Homo sapiens: one gene and its partner. The protein of the gene in region 1 interacts with the protein of each later gene in a pairwise test. Each region holds a gene or a part of one and is shown in the gene's direction. Other genes may lie near its edges.

The links.
Region 2: the proteins of TSC22D1 (region 1) and ASAH1 interact in a two-hybrid assay, tested with the Homo sapiens proteins (one large-scale study listed by BioGRID and IntAct).

The regions. Positions count from the first base shown.
Region 1 is NC_000013.11:44,433,331-44,436,830, reverse strand, and holds part of TSC22D1 (TSC22 domain family protein 1), read left to right. Parts: exon of another isoform or gene 1-202; coding exon of another isoform or gene 203-327; intron 328-735; coding exon 736-787; intron 788-1,947; coding exon 1,948-2,205; 3' UTR 2,206-2,816; coding exon of another isoform or gene 2,817-2,866; 3' UTR 2,867-3,500. UniProt on the Homo sapiens protein: Transcriptional repressor. Acts on the C-type natriuretic peptide (CNP) promoter. Acts to promote CASP3-mediated apoptosis.
Region 2 is NC_000008.11:18,066,904-18,070,628, reverse strand, and holds part of ASAH1 (acid ceramidase isoform a preproprotein), read left to right. Parts: intron 1-750; coding exon 751-837; intron 838-3,330; coding exon 3,331-3,409; intron 3,410-3,725. UniProt on the Homo sapiens protein: Lysosomal ceramidase that hydrolyzes sphingolipid ceramides into sphingosine and free fatty acids at acidic pH.

The DNA.
Region 1 (3,500 bases):
GATCTGGGAAGCGCCTCTTCACGGCACTGGGATCCGCATCTGCCTGGGATCATCAAGCCCTAGAAGCTGGGTTTCTTTAAATTAGGGCTGCCGTTTTCTGTTTCTCCCTGGGCTGCGGAAAGCCAGAAGATTTTATCTAGCTTATACAAGGCTGCTGGTGTTCCCTCTTTTTTTCCACGAGGGTGTTTTTGGCTGCAATTGCATGAAATCCCAATGGTGTAGACCAGTGGCGATGGATCTAGGAGTTTACCAACTGAGACATTTTTCAATTTCTTTCTTGTCATCCTTGCTGGGGACTGAAAACGCTTCTGTGAGACTTGATAATAGGTAAATGTCGGCTAAGATAGTTTCTTTAAATTTATTCGTGGGATACTTATAATAATACAGGTGAAAGATAGCCAGGCGAATTCCTTTGTCCATTGCTGAGAGATTATGGTGACATGGATGTTGTTTTTCGAAATGTTAAAAAACCTTATTTTTGCAAGTCTGGCCAGAGAACAGGCTTTCCCCACATTATGTAATTTAGTCCTTTGTGGCTTACTAAAATAGGGAGATGCCTGGATATTCGTTAGTAAGAGAGGGGCTGGCATTTTCTGGAGGGTGATACATTACATAGTGTTAAATAACATTCAAAATATGATGCTAGCAATATCACAAAATTGGGAGATCCTTTTTATCTTGGAAGCTTAAGATAAATTCCATTTATCGATGACCTTTTTCCCTCCTCTTTTTCAGCTCCTCTGGTGCAAGTGTGGTAGCTATTGACAACAAAATCGAGCAAGCTATGGTATGTACTGATGAAAAATCATTTATACTAAATGTGGGCACAGCACAAAAATAAGATGTTTTGTGGAACCAGTGCATCCCTAAGTTCAGATGATGATGATTGCTCTTGATGCGCGTAGAAATGCCGGCGCTGTCTCCATTCGGCCAGCGTGGAGCCACCTACCACGGCAGCCGTGGAGGGAGAAAGGGGCCCTGCGGGTATTAAATGGTCTTCTTCCCCGGACTGGTTTCACACGACGGGATTTTCTCACGGTGACCCTTTTTGCTGGGGATTTATTAGGGAAGCGCTGGCCAACTATCTCCTTCGGCTGGTCGTGAGCACACCTTTAGCGATGTGGCTTTACTAGGAATCCTAATATTTTACTAGGGAGCCGGGAGGTGGGGAGGGCCCCAGAAGTCGGGATCCTGGATAAGGGTCTTCTAGACGGTGCACAAACGGGTCCCCGGTGGCGCGGGCTCCTTCACAATGAAGAAGAATCAGAGAAAAAGTTTTGTTTTCTTAGCCTGCGCCTGGATTTCTCCTATTTTTTATTTCCGCCTTGGCCGTTCTTTGTTATTGGAGCAGCGCCTGTGGCTCTTCTCACGGGATTCTCTGCCCACTGTTGCTAGGCAAACTCTGAACCTTTAATTCGGAGCTATAAATAACTCGGGCTCCCATTGGCTGCGACGTCTGCCCAGGTTTCTGTGATGTCAGCTTAATCACGAAAAGAGGGGGGCGGGGTGGAGGGAAGAAAATGCGGCAACATGTTCGGTAGGAACTGGCTGCAGCCGGTGCTGAAGGAGGCGGCTCCGGGCGAGCGCGGGGCGGGGCCTGGGGGCGGGGACGCGGTGGGCGCGCTGTGGCTTGGACGTCCCCGCTGCTGGTCTCAGTCGGGGACCCAGCGCCCGGCTCTGGCCCAGTCTCAGGAAGCCTTACTTGGGCGTTTCTGGCCAACGTCTGCAGAGAAGCACAGACTTTTACAAAGCTTGATCATTTATACGTTAAACTCAAGTATTGTACAGTCATGTTTGTATTCAGATTTCCCCAAGTGTCATTGAACCAACTTTAAAGGTGGAATATGTAAATAGTTAGGGAGATCCATGTAAAATAATGTCTTGGAAACTCAAAAGAGTCCAGAAAATACCAAATAATGAGTTAAACCTTTTCTGTCTTCTTTCCAGGATCTAGTGAAAAGCCATTTGATGTATGCGGTCAGAGAAGAAGTGGAGGTCCTCAAAGAGCAAATCAAAGAACTAATAGAGAAAAATTCCCAGCTGGAGCAGGAGAACAATCTGCTGAAGACACTGGCCAGTCCTGAGCAGCTTGCCCAGTTTCAGGCCCAGCTGCAGACTGGCTCCCCCCCTGCCACCACCCAGCCACAGGGCACCACACAGCCCCCCGCCCAGCCAGCATCGCAGGGCTCAGGACCAACCGCATAGCTGCCTATGCCCCCGCAGAACTGGCTGCTGCGTGTGAACTGAACAGACGGAGAAGATGTGCTAGGGAGAATCTGCCTCCACAGTCACCCATTTCATTGCTCGCTGCGAAAGAGACGTGAGACTGACATATGCCATTATCTCTTTTCCAGTATTAAACACTCATATGCTTATGGCTTGGAGAAATTTCTTAGTTGGGTGAATTAAAGGTTAATCCGAGAATTAGCATGGATATACCGGGACCTCATGCAGCTTGGCAGATATCTGAGAAATGGTTTAATTCATGCTCAGGAGCTGTGTGCCTTTCCATCCCTTCCGGCTCCCTACCCCTCACTTCCAAGGGTTCTCTCTCCTGCTTGCGCTTAGTGTCCTACATGGGGTTGTGAAGCGATGGAGCTCCTCACTGGACTCGCCTCTCTCCTCTCCTCCCCCCAGGAGGAACTTGAAAGGAGGGTAAAAAGACTAAAATGAGGGGGAACAGAGTTCACTGTACAAATTTGACAACTGTCACCAAAATTCATAAAAAACAATAGTACTGTGCCTCTTTCTTCTCAAACAATGGATGACACAAAACTATGAGAGTGACAAAATGGTGACAGGTAGCTGGGACCTAGGCTATCTTACCATGAAGGTTGTTTTGCTTATTGTATATTTGTGTATGTAGTGTAACTATTTTGTACAATAGAGGACTGTAACTACTATTTAGGTTGTACAGATTGAAATTTAGTTGTTTCATTGGCTGTCTGAGGAGGTGTGGACTTTTATATATAGATCTACATAAAAACTGCTACATGACAAAAACCACACCTAAAGAAATTTTAAGAATTTGGCACAGTTACTCACTTTGTGTAATCTGAAATCTAGCTGCTGAATACGCTGAAGTAAATCCTTGTTCACTGAAGTCTTTCAATTGAGCTGGTTGAATACTTTGAAAAATGCTCAGTTCTAACTAATGAAATGGATTTCCCAGTAGGGGTTTCTGCATATCACCTGTATAGTAGTTATATGCATATGTTTCTGTGCATGTTCTCTACACAATTGTAAGGTGTCACTGTATTTAACTGTTGCACTTGTCAACTTTCAATAAAGCATATAAATGTTGATAAACAAGTGTTTTTCATATGACCCTGTTAACATAATGGCAGTCATTTCCACAACTGTTTCCAGGTAAAGTTAACAATTTGACTAGTAAAATCCTGAAGGGCAGTGGAATGATTGGAAAAGTAGGGGCGTGATTTGACTGCATGAAGTAAAAGGAAATTGACACATTGAGTTGTTCAGCAGGTAAGAGAAGAGAC
Region 2 (3,725 bases), on another chromosome or scaffold:
TAAAGATAAAATTAGACTTACTGTATTAATGTATTAATCGAGGCCAGGCACGGTGGCTCATGCCTGTAATCAATCCCAGTACTTTGGGAGGCTGAGGCAGGCGGATCACCTGAGATCAGAAGTTCAAGACCAGCCTGGCCAACATGGTGAAACCCTGTCTCTATTAAAAATACAAAAATTAGGCCAGGCGCGGTGGCTCATGCCTGTAATCCCAGCACTTTGGGAGGCCGAGGCGGGTGGATCACGAGGTCAGGAGTTCGAGACCAGCCTGGCCAAGATGGTGAAACCCCGTCTCTACTAAAAATACAAAAATTAGCCAGGCATGGTGGTGCATGCCTGTAGTCCCAGCTACTTGGGAGGCTGAGGCAAGAGAATCGCTTGAACCCGGGAGGCAGAGGTTGCGGTGAGCAGAGATCGTGCCATTGCACTCCGGCCTGGGCGACAAGAGCAAAACTCCGTCTTAAAAAAAAAAATACAAAAATTAGCTGGGAATGGTGATGCACACTTGTAATCTCAGCTACTTGGGAGGCTGAGGCAGGAGAATCGCTTGAACCTGGGAGGCAGAGATTGCAGTGAGCCGAGATGGTGCTACTGCACTCCAGCCTGGGTGACAGAGCGAGATGCTGTTTTAAAAAATATATATATAAATTGTCAAATAGCACTCTCTTTTAGCTACATATGGGTAAGCCAAAAGGTAATCTTGACAGCATTTCATTATGTCTTTTAGTAAGCATTTTATTTATTTTTCAGCTAAAGGTTATAGTGAATTCTCTGAAGAATATGATAAATACATTCGTGCCAAGTGGAAAAATTATGCAGGTGGTGGATGAAAAATTGGTAAGAGATATTATTTCTCACAATAAATGTTAAGCACATAGAAAATGCGCTGTTATTTATTTAAAGGCATAATTCAGCAACCTCTTCGCAGGGACTTGGGCAAATCTGCATGAATCTAGCTCACTGTCAGAACTTCAGAGGGACTTAAATTTGGGGAATTGGTAATATTAGGGTTACAGCATAGCAAATTATGGTTTCGTAAAAGGGGATGGGACTACATTACGACATTGGGCAAATAACCATATTTCATCTGGGAGTGTGGTATTTCCTTCCCTTTATGTAGTGAGTTCACTATTGAAGACTTGGTTTTTTTTCTTAAGTGTCTCAGGGACATCCAGAGATTTTTTTTTTGTAGATATGAGCAAATGACATACTCAGCCTGGCCCCTTATTCTGTAGAGTTCCTCAGTAGCTCTGACCCTGAAACTCATTTGGGCTGAGTGTTTCTGTGCAATCACCAAACCATTTCATTTTCATCCTCATCATGCAGGAAGACTCCATTTCTCAGCCCCGTTTTTGTTGACGCAGAACCAATGAAACACCTAGGGCCTGGCCCCTAGAACTGTTAAAGGGATCCTCATTGCTCTTGATGGCAGATTTTGGGCATTAATGACATTTGGGGTTGGGCAGCTTTTTTTTTTTTTTTTTTTTTGAGACCTCATCTCACTCTGTAGCCCAGGCTGGAGTGCACTGGCATGATCATAGCTCACAGCTGCCTTGATCTCCCAGGCTCAAGGGATCCTTCTGCCTCAGCCTCCTGAGTAGCTGGGACTACAGTCACGTGCCGCCACACCCAGCTACTTTTCTGAATTTTTAGTAGAGACGGAGGCTTGCTGTGTCACCCAGGCTGGTCTCCCAACTCCTGGGCTCAGGCGATCTTCCCGCCTCAACCTCCCAAAGTGTTCTCCCAAAGTGTTGGGATCGTAGGTGTGAACCGCCATGCCCGGCCTGGGTTGGATATTTCTTTGTCGTGGGCTTGTCTACATTCCAGGATGCCCGGCCTGGGGTGGGTGTCTCTTTTTTGTGGGGCTGTCATGTGCATTGCAGGATGTTTAGCAGCTCAGGATGCCCGGCCTGGGGTGGGTGTCTCTTTTTTGTGGGGCTGTCATGTGCATTGCAGGATGTTTAGCAGTGTCCCTGGCCCTTACCCACTGGATGCTGGTAACACCCCCTCAGTTGTGACAACCAAAAATGTCCTTAGATGTTACCAAATCTCCCGTGGTCGAGAATCATTGCCCTAGCGGCTGAGTGCTGTGGCCACATCCTCCCTATGACACTTGTACCTGCCAAGCACCAAACCCATTATCCCTCACGTGCATGCTCTCGGAGCTTTTGTTTCAGGCTATCCTTTATGTTCATACTTACCGGACTTCCTCAAAACAAAAAAATGCTGGCAGGAGCAAAAGAGGATGAGGCCCCCACGTTCCCCGTATGCCTTAATCTCCCCTCTACTCTGAATGTTATCAGGGAGGGCAACATTGCAGAGAGTTTTTGTGCCACGCCTTGGAATCGGACAATACTGGGTTTTAAGGCTGGATCAGTCACATACTAGCCTTGTGTCCTAGGGAAAGTTTCTTAACCTATGAAACCTCAGTTTTCTCATCAGGGAGAATAATAATTACTAATATATATTTCATATGGTGGTTGTAAGGGTTAAATGACATACTGTGTATAAAGCATAGTGCTTGGATGTAATAAGTGTTTAATAAATACCCATTACGTCACATTTGTTTGTTAAATGGCTGGAACATTCCACTTGGGGAATGCTTTGAGTTCCTAGGGAGAAAAAAAATATGTTTAGGTGACATTACATGTAATTACCAAGTTGGTTAAAAAAGTGAGATTCGTGAATTTTAAGCAGATTATCTCAGCAAAAGGCCGTGAACTTAAGTTGTGATCTGGATGTTAGTAGTTGCCATTGAGAATAAATATATGATGTCCACCACTGAATTTGCTCAATGTCTCTGGTTTGCTAAAAGAATGCAGTTACTTCATCTTAGCTGAAGATCAGCCATTAACCATGACACAGGGCTATGGATAGAATAGTGCAGGTTTATCTCTGTGAGTGTGGGAAGGAAATGGTAAGAACGGTATATGCCAGTGGCTAGAGGGTGAATTCGTGCAGAGAGATAAGGAGTGCTTGTTATGATGTTTTTGTGGTGTGGGTCAGGTTAGGTCATCCAAGTGGAATTACTCTCGTTCCTGCCTTCTCTGGAGAATGATGGAAAAATAAGGCAGGAAAAACAATCTGAGAATCTGGTCTCTGTATAGGGGCCCAATATTCAGTATTACATAGAATCTTTTTATAACTACATGATGTAAAAATGCTTTAAAAAATAATTCCTATCACTTATTATGATAGCAGTATCTAGAAAAAATTATATGTCCAAGAACTAGATTTCAAAGCATGCTTTTATTATATTTGTTTATATTATATTATATATTTTTTATTGTTATTATGTTAAATGCTTTTATTAATATATTTGTTTTCCAGCCTGGCCTACTTGGCAACTTTCCTGGCCCTTTTGAAGAGGAAATGAAGGGTATTGCCGCTGTTACTGATATACCTTTAGGTAAAGTTCACTTAGAAGCTTTAAAAAAAAAAGTAATTAAATTCTTTTACAAGTTTCCATTGAGGTGTGATATACATACAGCACAGGTGCTGTATGTCTTAGATATACAGCACAGGTGCACAGGTCTTAGATATACAGCTCAGTGAAGCTTCAGAAATGCATGCATGCATGTAGCCATGACTCAGATCAAGATACGGAAGAGCCCAGCACTCCACGATGCTCCATCATGCCCCTTTGCAGAAAATACTGCCTCCTCCAGTAAACACTATTCTGATGTCACTATAGATTAGTTTTGCCTCTTCGTGAACTTTGTATA